2 linked regions of the Homo sapiens genome follow. The protein of the gene in region 1 purifies or fractionates together with the protein of each later gene. This does not show direct contact. Each region holds a gene or a part of one and is shown on either strand. Other genes may lie near its edges.

Region 1 (8,018 bases):
TGTGACAAAGATTTATCCTTACCAGCTTCTCAGTTTCCTGAAACATTTATTTTCCTTTGATTTTAGATTCTGTATTTATGTTATATATCTCTTTCTAAAACATTTTCTTGTTTCTGTTTTCTTTACTTCTTTTACTTTTTTGCCACTTCTGTTTTTTGAAAAATATCATCCTAGGCATGCTCTGAAAGTCATTTGTTCGGTGTTTTCCTGATAGTGATTTCTGGTTATAGGCCCATAAAGTATCTGTAGGATGTGGTTAGGATAGTTCCTACCTCTTGGTAAAAGTCTAGTAGTAACACAGGAAGGGCACAGACTTTGGGGACAAGAGACATTTAAAACTGTTACTGATCATGACATTACCAAAAATCAAAAGACAGGGGCCATGGCTCATGCTTCGTAATCTCTCTGTGAATATTATAAGGAAAATTCTAAGCCCTGGTCAACTGTGAAATGAACAGGTCTTCAGTGGAGTTAATTAGCATTTTCCAGGTGCTTTGCTGTTTACAGTGTCCTTTATTTCATGTATCTTCTCATTTGTTACAGGTCTTCTTTCATACCTTTTCCTTTTCTCTGAGATTCAGAGACCCTTTGGGGAGGCTGAATTTCAGGTTTGTTTTCATTAGGACCTTACATGACCAAATCCCCCCTCTTGGGGTTCCAGGGGTGCTCCTTCATTTTACTCTCTGATGGGTATGCCATGAATTGTGACATTTAAGCAGTGACTTTGCAAAATTGGACGTGTCAGTAGGAAAAAGTACTCTTCCCACCTTAAAGATTGACAGGAACATGAGATGGCTGAAGCTGTTCTGAGCTTTTTTCTGGCAAGAGTACATAGGACAAGAAATACTCTGGAGAGCTCAACATTGAATCACATCATATCATAGTGCATGACTAGTTGCCTTAATCTTGCAGTTGGACTCACTCAGGAGAAATTGTTGGCAGAGGGATTAAGTAGCCTGACAAAATTATATTGAGAAAAAAACTTGCAGTCTATTAATTTATTAGTAGTAGATATGAGGGAAAGAAGAGTCATGTAAAAAAAAAAAAAAACAACTGGACATGAAACCACGGAGAAATCCACAAAGACTCCATTACAGTTTGTTATCAGCCTCTTGCCCCTGGCCATGACTAATGGCCAGTAATTGTCTGAATAAGTTTTTAACCATTTGGAAATTTCTTCAGGAAAAGAAAAATCTAGTAAAGGGAGAAGGGTGACCACAAGTCAAGCTGTGAATGAGGAAGTCCTGAAATGTGGGCTAAGTGGGTCACTGAATTTGCCGTGTTTGATTCTTCGGTTGCACCACTTTGAACTTTTGAAGTTTGATCCTCCCAGTGGTGTTTCTGAGGTAGAGAGGCTAGGATTAGATTGCAGTGTGAGAAATCCCACAAACGTGATTCTACTGTAATCTTACTGTTCTCTCTCGCTCCTTGATAACTGGGATCCCATTAAAGGGGGTTCATTATTGACATCTCAGAAGAAACTCATTGTGAAGTCTAAAATAAAGTGCCATTCTTCCCTACACCAGCTCTGCCTCCCATATTCCCCATTATTTTCCCAGTCACCCAGAGTCACAACCTCAGAGAGATCCTTGGCTCCTTCCCCTTCTTTCAGTTCTTGTAGCCCTGTCACAGTGTCCCTTATATCTAGTTTTTCCTTTCCATGCCCATTGCCCCTGCCTCTCATTCTTTCAGTCTTTCCTTGCATCTCAGTGGACAATTGCATTACCCTGTGCTGTCTTCCCTGCCTCCTCTCTTCTCTGAGATCTGCTCTTCTTATCACTGCTTGCATGACTCCATCTCATTCTCCCCTTGCACCAGTTGCAGAAAGATCCTCCGTGTGTGGCTTTCCCTCCTCTCTAGCTTTCGGTCCTACTACTTCCTTATCTTGTGCTTCTGTCACACCCCAACCCCCCCCAGCTGCATCCTGCTTCTTGAACACGTCCTGTGTTTTTCTCATACCTTAGGTGACATGGTACCATTTTCTTGGAACACTCCCTCCCCCTTGTCTGCATGCCAAAGTCTTAATCATTCTTCAGGGACCAGGTCAAATGCCGTGACATCCATCAAGTCTTTTCTCATCTCCAAACCAGATGTGATCTCTCCCTGTGATAAATGTCAGTAACACTTTATACCTTTCTTGTAATACTTGTAAGGCTCTGCCTTGCATAGTAGTCATTTGCATATTTATCTTGTTACACTTGAAAGTAAGGACTGTATTTTATTCTTTGTGACCAGTAAAATACCTTGCACCACATAGTAGGGCATCTGTCCAATAAATGCTTGTCATATACAATAAAGCAATGGCTGGGGCGGCATTATCTACAGGTTAACCCAATAATAGGTCATAATGTATCTGCAGATAGTAGGACCATAAGGATGTGTAGATAAACCCTGAAGTAAATGATTCGCAGAGGGTCACATGGAAGGGAAACAGGGAGTTTGATACCTAGCACTCACTGAAAAAAGCGTCCGGATACTGCTAGAGTGTGAGACTAGAAGGCCTGAAATGTAACCATCATACACCAAAGAGAGTTGCTCCCAAACACCAGCCAACTCCACCAATAGTATATAAAGGTGCGTTGTAAACAGTACAGTGATTCTTAAAGATATTATTAAACATCATACTGTTAATATATAACAAGATTGACTAATATGCCAATGAAACCCGTGACTCCAGGTACCTGTGAAATAGCCAGCAAGGGTTCTGAGCCACTGATCCAAGACAGGACAAAGTTACCAACTATTCTTCCTAAGAAATTGTTTCTCATCATGCAAGGGGCTGTTTCTGTCTTGGTTTTGTGGAAGGTCTAATTCTGTGGCTTGAGGACATCTGCAGTAGGGCCAGATGTCAGAGCAGGTAGTGGTCATGCTTCATGAAGTTTTTAGGAGGGCACAGTTACCTGGTTGATGCAAATGGAAGTAACTGGAATAAATGCTATTGTTGCAGGCCCAAGCTCCCAGTCCATCCTGGCTGGTCATAGTTGACTAATTCATGGTGGTCAAAAAGTGATTCTCTTGTCTTTGAATTTTCTCTTGTATTTTAGGCAAAACAGATTTGTTTTTTGATACTTTCATAAAGCTGTCTATCCATATTCTGTTGTCACTTTTCAAAATGATCAGAAACCTAAAGAACTACCATACTTGCCTAAAAGAAGACACTTCCTGATGCATAGCTTGAAACAGGAATTGACTTCCTAAAGGAAAGTATTTGGCACACCAAGCCTATTGTTCACAGCGCTGCAAGAGAGGCATTTCAACATACATGGGCTCTTCCTAAAAATATAACTTGCTAAAATAAAAAATTCAGGGTTCATTAAGGTTAATCATCTAATAAAGTAAGAGAATTTCCTCTAGGTGAAAAGTTTCAGTTTATTTTAGGGGTGTGGTGTTGTTACAACTGGCTAATCTCCGCACCATAATTTAATCAGGCTGGATGAGAAAGAGACTAGAAAGGCGTGGAGCCAGAGCACAGTGTAGCTTCTCTTCTTTTCCCAGGCTTATTTTTTTCCTCTAACATGTAATAAATTTACTCGTAACAACCTGGCTTTTATTGTGTCATTTTCTAGCTAACTGGGAGTTACTGATGTCAGTTGTCTTTTAGAATAACTTTTCCTTAAACATTTGAAGATCGTAAGAATTGGGGAACTCATTCATTCATTTATTCATGGAGCATTTACTGCTCACCTACTGTGTGCTATAGGAACATGAAGACAAGCAAAGCACTGCCCTGGCCCTCAACCTGGTAGGGGAGATGTGTGAATAGGGCCAAAACCACTTAAACAAGACAGTGGCTATAAAGGTGTCTGTACCAGCGAGAAGGTCAGCTGCCTTCCTTGAAGTTGAGTGGCCAAAACCACTTTCAGGATTGCAGGTGGGACTATGTTTTGGAGGCTTGATGGATTTTTCAGTTATTTAGTTCATTCTTTCAAGGAATAGTTATTGAGAGCCTCCTGGGAGCTGGGCAGTGTTCTAGGCTCTGGGGCCACTGCAGTGAGCTCCAGTACTAAATCCCTGCCTTCATGGAGCAAAGCAGGAGATCAGACAGCAAGGAGAGAAATCAGTGCAATACCAGCAGACTTGAAGTAGGGAAAGGAACAACCATGACTCTGGGCACAGGGGACAGTGAGGAGGCCAGTGAGGTGGGAGTGAGGGAAAGGGGGCTAAGGGTAAGGCCAGAGAAGGAATGTGGAAGAAGGTCCTGGAGGGACTTGGGGGCTTTCTTTTCCTAGAACATGCTCCTAATAGCCAGCCCCCAGACATCTGATGGCCTGTTGAGCTATTACAACATTTTAGGTTGATGTCTTCATTTTCATTCATGTTTTTCCTTTTATTGTCCCTGATGCTGAAAAACAAGAGGTTGAGTTTGTGAGACAAAATGTCTTCATTGTGTGTGTGATGGGGATAGGCATAGTCTCCCCATCTTGTTCTGTGCTGTCTGCCGTTAAGGAGGTGGGGAGATTACGATCACTCTCCTTTCCTGTACAGTAATCTGCTGATCTCTGGAACATACTAAGGAGGACATAGAGTGACAACATCTATAATCCCCTTAATCTCTATATTCATACTGTCTAATCTCCTTGAGTTACACTGGTAACATAAGTCTATCTCTTAGAGTTACTTTTATCATTAACAGCACAAAAATGTATTATTTACAGGGCCAAATGCAAGCTCTTGAGGCATATAAAGTGGATTAATAAGGTTGGCTCAGCGTTAAGCTATGCCAGAGCCGAGTCCAAATTTTATTCCGGTACAGGGATGACTTTCTATGTGGCCTCTCTGGCTCTGGAGCTAATTTGGATGCTGAGTAGCCCCGCAGGTATTTATATGTAGCGTTTGGTATTTTTACTGGGTCCTATTCTTCTCCCTTGGATCACCTAAAATGGTTAAGAATTTTCTAGTGGGATTAAGGTTGTGATCTCTGGGGAGGGGTGGGACATCTGCTCTCGGTTATTTTTGTGTTAGCCGCTTCCCCTTAAATGTATGTTCACAAATGAGCCACAGCCTTATCAGCTGGGGTTGAGGGAAGACTGGTCTAGGTGCTGCTCCTGAACTTGGTCTCTGAGCCATGGCTTCCCATAGACACTCAGGTAAAACTTCATGCTCTTTATCTTATATTGAGCACAGTTTTGTTAGGGCAGTGAATCCGTCATTGGGCTAAAAGATGGTTTTTGATGAAATGATTTTAGTCTTGTCTGAATAGTAAATAAATTATAGCTTGTCTCTGTTTTGCCTTTGCCTTTCATGCTATTTCAAAGACAAAATATTGTTCAAGTACAATGAACAGTTTGAGTGATTTATTTTAAAAAGAAGTATATAAACATGTTACCACTATATTTTTACCTTTTTCAGGACATCTCATGAAACTATAAGAGATTGTGGGAGGAAAGGTTTTTCTGGTTAGGAATTTTTGGCTTTCTTTTTTATAAGATACAATTCTTCATCTTGACAGTGCTTTACATCCAAGGTGTTTGGAGAAGGTAAATCGAATGTGGAGCTGAAAGGAGGAACATTTGTAACTAAGAAAGTCCATAATGACCTAGCACATCTTCCCTTTTGCTGACAATGTTTTAAATCTTCCCGAAGTAACAGCTATGTTCCTTTTGATATGCTAAGTATGTTATTAATTGTTTTTAGCAGAAAAAGGGGCACATTTTGGACTCCTTGGGACATGAGCATTTTCTTCTGGTTTTGTAACCTTACAATTAAGGAAGCCCTTTGGCCATCGACAAGAAATCTATGAACTAGGGGCTGAGGGGCCAAAAGCCCAGTTATTTGAAGCCAGGAGGGTGGCTGTGGCCCTGTGGCCCTCTGCCTAAGTAACGGTTCCCTTTCTTGGGGCTGGTAAAGTCAGACGGTTAGATATAAAGAAGGCACTTCATCCTGTCTCCCAGCTTTCAGATTAAGGGATGTCATTATCTATGTTTTTTTTTTTTTTTGAAAAATCATTTTTTAAAACTCATTGCCTGTCAATATTTAAACAATGGAAATACTTTAGGAAATTTCTCTTTTTGGGGTTTTAAATATGCTGCAATGGAATGCCCTACCTTAATGAATTAATATGTAATGTCTTCCCTGTTCCCAAGTGTTCAAAAGTTGTCTGGTTTTTTTTTTTTTCCAACCCTCAGGAGCTGTTTCACAAACATGGTACCAAATGCTTGAGATTGTGGTTATCAGCCAAGATACACATTCTCTGGGTGTAGGCAAACTAGTCAGCTGTGCTAGTTGTCCTGATGAACCTTAAATGCATGTTACCTGGTAGAATAACTCTCATTTTGTTTACTAATTAAGTGACAGAATAGTGACAGAAAGTTTAAAAGTTTAAATAGTGACAGAAAGTTTATAGCATACCCAACCTTGGGTTTTAAATTGCACCAAATTCTTATGTCGTTCTTGTGTATGTAAGTCTGGAGGCTCTAATAACTGTGGCTAAATGGGACCAATTATTTATACCTTTTAGATGATTTTTGAATTCAGGAAATTGCATTTTGTATTGCATTAGGTTAATAGATTCATGAAAGCAGAGAAGAATCAGTCCATGAGACAGAGAAGTCCTCATAGAAAATCAGTGTTGCCCTGAAACGGGCTCAGTATGGGCAAAATAGAAGCTAGGATAATTGGATCCAAATCCATTTTTAGTGACTATCCATATACTGAGAGGACATTTCAAGGACAAAAACAATGTATACTCTTGACATTGAAGACTTTCTGTCTGCAAAATTATGTAGATTCAATTTCTTTAGCCTTTGGCCTTTCAAGTCGAAAACCAGGTTTGGGGTGTGGAGGGGGATCAGGTCACTTGCCATATTACACAGCCATCGATTCCCTTCACCAGCTGCTGCTCAGTGGGCCGCACAAGCCCGCCAGTCTTTTCTCAGGGCAGGGATGGAAAATGAGAGGGTAGGATGAGAGGAAAGTAATCCAACTGGATTGGCTTCTTAAAATACAGAAGATTTGAGTGAGAGTGAAACTGAACATTTTGTGCTTTTGATGACCACCAAATGACTACCTACTACTTCACCACAGCTGGAGAAACTAAAAACACATGCTCTTTTGCTGCCGGGTCAGAAATGCTTTTTTTCCCATATGAAAGAGGGGCTGTGTTGCACGTAATCTGTGCAACATTATGAAAAATCTTCATATACAGACAAAATGGTACTAGAATTGAATCTGGACTGCAGGAAGTTCAGTGGCACATAATTTTTCTTTTAATAATCTATATCGAACCCTCCTGACACCCGATATAATCTAAAATGGCATTAGTTATACATCAGTGACCCAAAAAAGATTTGTTTTTTTTCTAAATGCAGCATACCAGTGAAGTTGCTAATTACATTGAATCATTCTGTACACGTTCTATTTTGAAGGGAAAAAACACTTTCTGATTTTTGTATGAAATTGTATGAAAGACTACTTTTCAGCCGTGACTCATGAGCTCCGTCTCATTGCAGCTACTTAGGTATTTATTCCCAAATGTCTGACGACACCTCCAGGTGCATTAGCATGTCTATTACACAAGTGTCCTATTCATTGGCTAAGGCTTTGCTCCATCTGTTGAATGTTCTGAGGAAAGCATTATACCCTTTCTTTAGAAGCCAGTGTTTATATGTGGAGTCACTAATGTACTGGTAGGTTGGATTTAGTGAAGAACAGATCTGAAATAACCTGATTTTTTTCCATTTGGGTTGTTGTTCATTGTTTACACTGTACATTACACCCTTCATGGAAAACACATAGAAAAATGCTACCTACTCATGATATTCACATTCTCCTTAAATATTCATAGTTTGAGCAACTCAGGCATGAGGGAGAAGATGAACAATAGGAAGAAATACATGAGAAAATACATGTAAAAACACAAGCAAGATTTATTAAATACAAATCGACTGTAATGAGAGGTTTATAGTAAAAAAGAAAAAAGAAAAAAACAAATGTTGTAATGTTATATTACTTGTATGTGTACATGATTAAATTGAAAGCCAAAACTTTTAATTAAGATACTGAGGTTTATTTAGGCACCT
Region 2 (7,024 bases), on another chromosome or scaffold:
TGCTCTAACACAATTTTCCAGGTTAATTACCACATTAAGTTAAATGCAGTATCCATAATAGTAATGTCACTCATTAATGATTGTGTCATTTTGAATAGGCCTTAATTAGTAATTACAGATTTTTGTGGTGGTTTATCGTGTTTTGTAATATGTTAGAGTACACTGGATTTGCTGAACTCTGGTAATTTAGAACTCTGAGCCATACAAAGAGAAGTTCTGTACTCTAAAAAGTATTTAATCTAACTGTATGCATAACTCCAATATTTTGCCTGAACAGATTTAGTCATTGTGGAAGTCCCGATTTCTGTCCTGTGGGCATGATTATTTGCATTACAAAAGGCTTCACCAAAATTTTTCATTGGGGAATAGGTGCATTTCAATATGATTTTGTATTCATAATGTTCAAGGAAAGGAAATGCTTTATTGAATCTAATTGATTTTTGCTTCTTGTTTTTTTTTTTCCCCTATTATTCTTCAGGTTTTTTTGCCCACCTCCTTGTGTATATCTTATGGGCAGTGGATGGAAGAAAAAAAAAGAACAAATGGAACGCGATGGTTGTTCTGAACAAGAGTCTCAACCGTGTGCATTTATTGGGATAGGAAATAGTGACCAAGAAATGCAGCAGCTAAACTTGGAAGGAAAGGTAAATCAAGACTGCTAGTTCACCAGAAAGGGGCACCATGGTACCAGAATGTAGTTTTCATATTCATTTTTGTGGTGGAGATTTTTTTCTTTAATAACTATTGGTAACAATTTCTTGAATATATAAACTAGGACCAAAAAACATGCCTCTCATAGCTTTGGTCTAGTCACTCATGAAGCTTACGCTGCTGACATTGGAAGGTGGCATGCAGTAAGCTTCCCCAGCTTGCAAGCAGTTTTAGCAGACTATAAATCAGATTTCTATTGGAAGCCAGTAATAAATTTAGGAGGCTGATTGCTCATCTTCTGTTTGACAGAGGTTTATCAACAAAAATACATTGTTCAGTAATGTTTTACTCTGCTATTTTAATCTTAGTTTTATACTAGACACGATGATATATACATTGTGGAAAGCATTTATCTGGGTTATAACGATCATAAACGTTTACTTGACATCAGAGTGAAGCAGAGTGATACTGTAGACAAGAACAGCCACAGTTGGCTTTACTCAAATTTTAGTGCGTGGCAGGGGTTCTTCAATTAATTTTCTAGAGAAAACAATCTATCAGCTAGTTTTACTGATTATATTGTATGAATTTAGAAAGCAGTCAATCTAGATCTTTTTTTTTCTTCCCCCGGGACAGGGTTTTTACTCTGTCACCCATGCAGAAATGCAATAGTGCAATCTTGGCTGACTGCAACCTCCACCTCACAAGTAGCGGGACCATAGGTGTGTGTCACTATGTCCAGCTAACTTTTTTGTATTTTTTTGTAGAGATGGGGTTTCGCCATGTTACCTAGGCTGGTCTTGAACTCCTGAGCTCAAGCAATCCATCCACCTCAGCCTCCCAAAGTGCTGGGATTACGGGTGTGTGCCACCGTGTCCAGCCAATCTATACTTTTAGTATTGAAAGATAGTTTTTTATTCACTTAGAATTTAGCTATGGTTTTATTTTTCCTTGCTACTGTACTTTGGAAAATGGTTAGTTCTGATCTCAATGACTAAACATCTTCTAAAATAGCGCATAAACAGCTGTTTCATTATTTGATACATCCTTGTTGAATATTTTAGTGTTTGCTATGTTGTAGTTGGCACTAGGTATATGGGTTGGGAGTAGTGTTGGTGGAGGTGAGCTAGGGGATTTGTACTCTCAAATTGAATTTTAGTGATTTTACAGATAGTACTACAGGTCTTAATGTCAACCTCCTTCAAATTTAGCTGTTTGTATGTCATTTATATCTTTATAGTTTTTGTAAGTAAGATTTGTTGACTATGTATTTTAAATTAGATTTGGGATAATACTTATTACAATAAAGATTGTTTCATCTTAAACCACTAAAACTATTTCTAAATTATGATCCCTGAGCTAAAGTAACGAATATATTTAAGTGGTGGGTTGATCTAATAGATCTTAAGTCTTGTCTCATCTGTTTTCTTGTTACCTAGGAAGTCTCAGAGTTATATGTCTCCAGGCTTCACATGTAGACATTCAGTACTATGAATGAGTGGATCAGATAGGTAGTGAGAAGCCAGGGATTCTAGCTACCTGTGTGTATAACTGTTTAATCCTACTTCATTGCTCATTTTAACCAGTTCCAGCTTCCAGTAATTTTAAATGAGGTGATACCAAATAAACCAACCAGTAGTATCACTGCTTGCCTTTCGCAGCATTGTGGCTTAGTAGTGCCACATCCTAATTTTGTACCTTTAGGGGCTGCCTCAACATGGAGATCTTTCTGCTGTTTTTCATTATATCTTTCTTCAACTTCCACTAGTATACCCTTTCCCCAAGGCCTAGAAACTGGCAGAAGAGGAATAGAATACCTGAGAGCTTGAGCATTTAACTAGTATTTAAAATACCTAGTAATAGGTTAGTACAATGTCTGTAAGCCAAAATTATATGTTAATATTTAATTTTAAGGAAAAATTCTATTAGGGAAGTTTATGTAAAGCAAGACTGGTGAGAGTTAGTAGAAGGCATCCCAGGCAGAAAAAAAAACAATATAATCATGTGCTTAGAGCATAAAGGTATAAGAACATGGTTTTGACCAAGGTAGGCAAAGATGTCCTGAGCAGCGGATTCTGAGCTTCAGTGAGAGGCACTTTGCTCTTGTCTGCCTCACTTAAACTCCATTCGTGTAAGGAAATAGTCTGTTCATTGAGTGGTACAATTAGTTATTGAGAAATATGGGATATTCATTTTGCAATTTTTGGTGTTTATACTTATTTTAAATATTCACTGCAACAAAATTCTAGTATATCTAGCCCTTTAAATTTATGGTCATGACATTTGGCTGTATGTAGGTAATATGTTGGATCTTAGATTTTGTGTAATGTTTTTAATTTGTTAAAAAAATTTACATTTTTTATAGTCACAGCTAGGTAAGCTACGCAACAAGGATGACTTAGTTAACACTCTTGTGTTTTTCTTATTTTTAAACATCATATACTCTTGGTAACATTTTGTTTCTATAATTTAAACATTTCTGCAGTATCACTTTGCAGCATTAGATTTGGTATTTCTTCTTTCTTTCAGGGAAATGTCTTTTATTGCCTAAAGATCTTGTTTTCAAAGAGTATTTCTAGAGAGATGATTATATGCCATTTTCTCTTCTAGAATTCCGTTAGCTAATTTAACCTTTTGCAATAGCAAGGCAAATGTAATTTTAGTTTTATTTGCTTATTTTCTATGAGTCAGTGACTTTTTCCTTCTTTTCTTAATGGAATTTGAGTAGTTTGTGGTCAGTGGCCTTATAGTTTTTTAAAACTAATAGTTCCCATAAAATTATCTTGATTATGATTTTTGTGGATTCAAACTACTCATTGTAATTAGGGATATATTTCCTTTCTTTCCAAGGAGATATATGTGTGTTTGTTTTTTCCGAACAAAATGCAGTTCTTTTTGTGTAGGTCTTATGATCCAACCTTCTTGGTTCTTTTTTTCCGTTCTTGTTTGCCAATATGTCTTATTTATGCTGGATTTCAGTATTTTCTCTTTCTGATATGGATCTTACCTTTTAATTTTAACACTCAAAAGCCATCTCAACATTTTTAAGCTTTCCCATTAGAATGTAATTACCTTCATTTAGATATAAATTTCATTTTTGCTTCCCATGACTGTCTGCTTTAGTACATTGATACCCATTTTCATAGACCTCGTCTTATGTTGCAGAAGAATTTCATTGTTTAGGCTTAATTTGACCTTCAATGCTGTCTGTCACTTTTAAGAGTATGGCCGACCTATGGGTATAGCAGCTCACAGATGCCATCTCTGAGTGCGTTAGAGATCTTGGGTGCAAGGAGTGATGTGACTGCAAAGTACTGTTGTTTTTTGTTTCTTTATCTTTATTCATTTTGAGACAGGGTGCCACCGTGCCGCCCAGGCTGGAGTGCGGTGGTGGGATCACGGCCCATTACAACCTCTGCCTCCTGGGCTCAAGCGACCGTCCCACCTCAGCCTCCTGAGTAGCTGGGACTACAGGCATGCACCACCATGCCTGGATAATTTTTGTGTTTTTCGTAGAGATGGGGTTTCACCATGTTGCTCAGGCTGGTCTCAAACTTCTGGACTTAAGCAGTCTGTCCACCTTGGCCTCCCAAAGTGCTGAGATTACAGGCATGAGCCACCACCCTGGCCTGTTTTTATTTATTACTATGATTGGCTTTATCTTATTTTTGCCTTCTACAGAGCAAAACCTCTCAAAGCTTTTACCAAACTTTTGATTTTTAAAAACTTAGTTAAATGTATAATGTTCAAGATGGCATCTAAATTTTCTTATATAGCTTTGCTATGAGAAATACAATAAACTATTGCAGTAGTTTTGTCTGCTACCGAGGCTGTCTGTGAATAAAATTTTAAAGATAAAAACCTAGAAGTCATTAACTGTTTCCTGAGTAGCATTTGCTCTGCTTTTTAAAAGGAAGATACAGGAGAGGCAGTTGAAGAAACTTGTTTAGCTTAATTTTAAAGTGGAATGTTGATCCTTTAAAAAATATAATTCGATACTTTAGATACTTATGCTGTGTTTCAGCATCATTTATCTTATCTGGAAAAGGACAATAATTTAGACCCCTCCCTGATTCACAGGGATCAAGAGAATAGGAAAGATTTTAGAATTGTTATATATAATATAAGCAGTAGCATTTTGAAGGGTCTTTGCTGTTTGTAAAGTGCTATATCTCTTTATCTTTTCAGTTATCAGAATTTAAATTCTGGTAAACTGACATAATGCCTTGAGCATTTTCTCTAGTACCTTTAAATTCAGTTCTTCTGGTGATACATATGAATCGTCCTTTTGGGCAAAGTTAACCATTTTAAAAATAGTTCTTTAAAGTAATGCTTATATAATCTCTTTCTGGTTTAAGATATTTTATAATCATCCAGTTTGTCTATCATTGTTTTCCTCAATCTTATAAGTGATTACTCTAGTGTTCAGCTATATAAAGAAAAATATTTTATGCACTATTTTGAGAAGAACTACTGCTAAAATCTTTTACATAATTTCTTGAATTCTGATAGCTTTATTATTATTTTTTTTTTGGAGAAAGTCATTGATTTTTTTTAACTGTAAAATTTATTTTAAAAGTTACTGCTGTAACGTTGAGTGATAATTCCATGATACAGTTGTAGAGCTATGTAAAACAAGAAAAGGCTGTTTTTTTAAATGGTCTTTTAAAGAGGATACAATAGATGACAATGTTTGTGTTCTACAGACTTTATAAGGAAGACTTTGTACTTTTCCGAAATCAATTTCAGTAATTTTTATAGTTGATAATTTTTAGAGTTGGTTTTATCAGCTATCCCTTGGAATTGTTTTACTTATTACTTAAACCATGGCCATTCTGAGTTTTAGGTACTACATAAACAAACAAGGTTTTGCTGCTGTTAAAACTTTACTTTTCTTTCACAGAACTATTGCACAGCCAAAACATTGTATATATCTGACTCAGACAAGCGAAAGCACTTCATGTTGTCTGTAAAGATGTTCTATGGCAACAGTGATGACATTGGTGTGTTCCTCAGCAAGCGGATAAAAGTCATCTCCAAACCTTCCAAAAAGAAGCAGTCATTGAAAAATGCTGACTGTATGTATGCTTTTCTTATTTATCCCCAACTGCCACCATGAATTAATAAGACAGACTCTTTTTTAAATTAAAAATTGCCTTTTCAATAGCCAATTAATTCTTTACTAATATTTTTGTGGCCCTCTTTATTGTCTCTCTTTTTTTAATCGTAAATCGACAGTATGTGGTCTAATGAAGCAGTTCTTAACCAGAGTTGGTTCCTTAATGCTCCCAGGGACATTCTGGGGAAATGGGAGATTTTCTCCTTCTGTTGTTACAGTGACTGGAGGGGGTGATGTTGGCTTTGGGTGTCTTGAGCCTGTGGTGCTGAATTGAATGTCCTGCAGTGTCCAAGGTAGTTCCCATTCCACAAAGAATTGATCTACCCACAATGTCAACAAGTACCCCTTTGAAAAACGCTACCAACTAAATGGGCTTTGGCAGGCCTTCCTGAGAATCTAAACACAATTTTTAATGTGGTTGCTCTGGCAGAGACTGCTGTCTCATCAGCCTATTTTTAGACTACCAAACAAGTATGTTTGAATTATAAATTTAACCTCCACACCCATTTTTCTTTTTTTAACTTTTTATTATGGAGACTTTTCTTTTTTTTTTTGAGATGGACTCTTACTCTGTCGCCCAGGCTGGAGTGCAGTGGCAGGATCTCAGCTCACTGCAACCTCCACCTCCCGGGTTCAACCAATCCTCCCTGCCTCAGCCTCCTGAGTAGCTGGGATTACAGGTGCCCACCATCACGCCCGGCTGATTTTGTATTTTTTAGTAGAGATGAGGTTTCGCCATTTGGCCAGGCTGGTCTTGAACTCCTGACCTCAGGTGATCCACCCACCTCGACCTCCCAAAGTGTTGGGATTGCAGGCGTGAGCCACCATGCCTGGCTGAGACTTTCAAATTTATATAAAAGGGAGAAATTAGCCACCCAGCCTCAACAGGTTTTATCAATTCTGTTTCATTATCTCCATCACCACCAACACCTCTTCGTCTTCTAATTGCTGGAGTATTTTAATGTAAATCTCATCCTATCCTTTCAACCAAAATTTCTGCAATAGTGACTAATACATGCCCTTTTTTTTGAAACATCATTATACGTAACAGTTGACAGCAGCTCTTAAGTGTCATCTAATATCCTATTTCATGTACAGATTTATCAGATTGACCCAGAATGTCTTTTTATAGTTTTTTTGCTTTGTTTTGTTTTACAGTGGTTTGTTCAAACATGGATTCAGATAAGGTCCACACATTTTAGTCTGTAATAGTTTCTTCTCACCCTCTCTCACCTTTGTTTTCCTTCTATGTCA

Evidence for each region.
Region 2: the proteins of FHL1 (region 1) and RBPJ purify together in Homo sapiens (affinity purification with western blotting; 4 studies listed by BioGRID and IntAct, with this or other methods). This does not show direct contact.

Annotation. Positions count from the first base shown.
Region 1 is NC_000023.11:136,192,048-136,200,065, forward strand, and holds the start of FHL1 (four and a half LIM domains protein 1), read left to right. Parts: upstream 1-4,999; 5' UTR 5,000-5,065; coding exon 5,066-5,087; intron 5,088-8,018.
Region 2 is NC_000004.12:26,414,997-26,422,020, forward strand, and holds part of RBPJ (recombining binding protein suppressor of hairless), read left to right. Parts: intron 1-478; coding exon 479-644; intron 645-5,554; coding exon 5,555-5,729; intron 5,730-7,024. UniProt on the Homo sapiens protein: Transcriptional regulator that plays a central role in Notch signaling, a signaling pathway involved in cell-cell communication that regulates a broad spectrum of cell-fate determinations.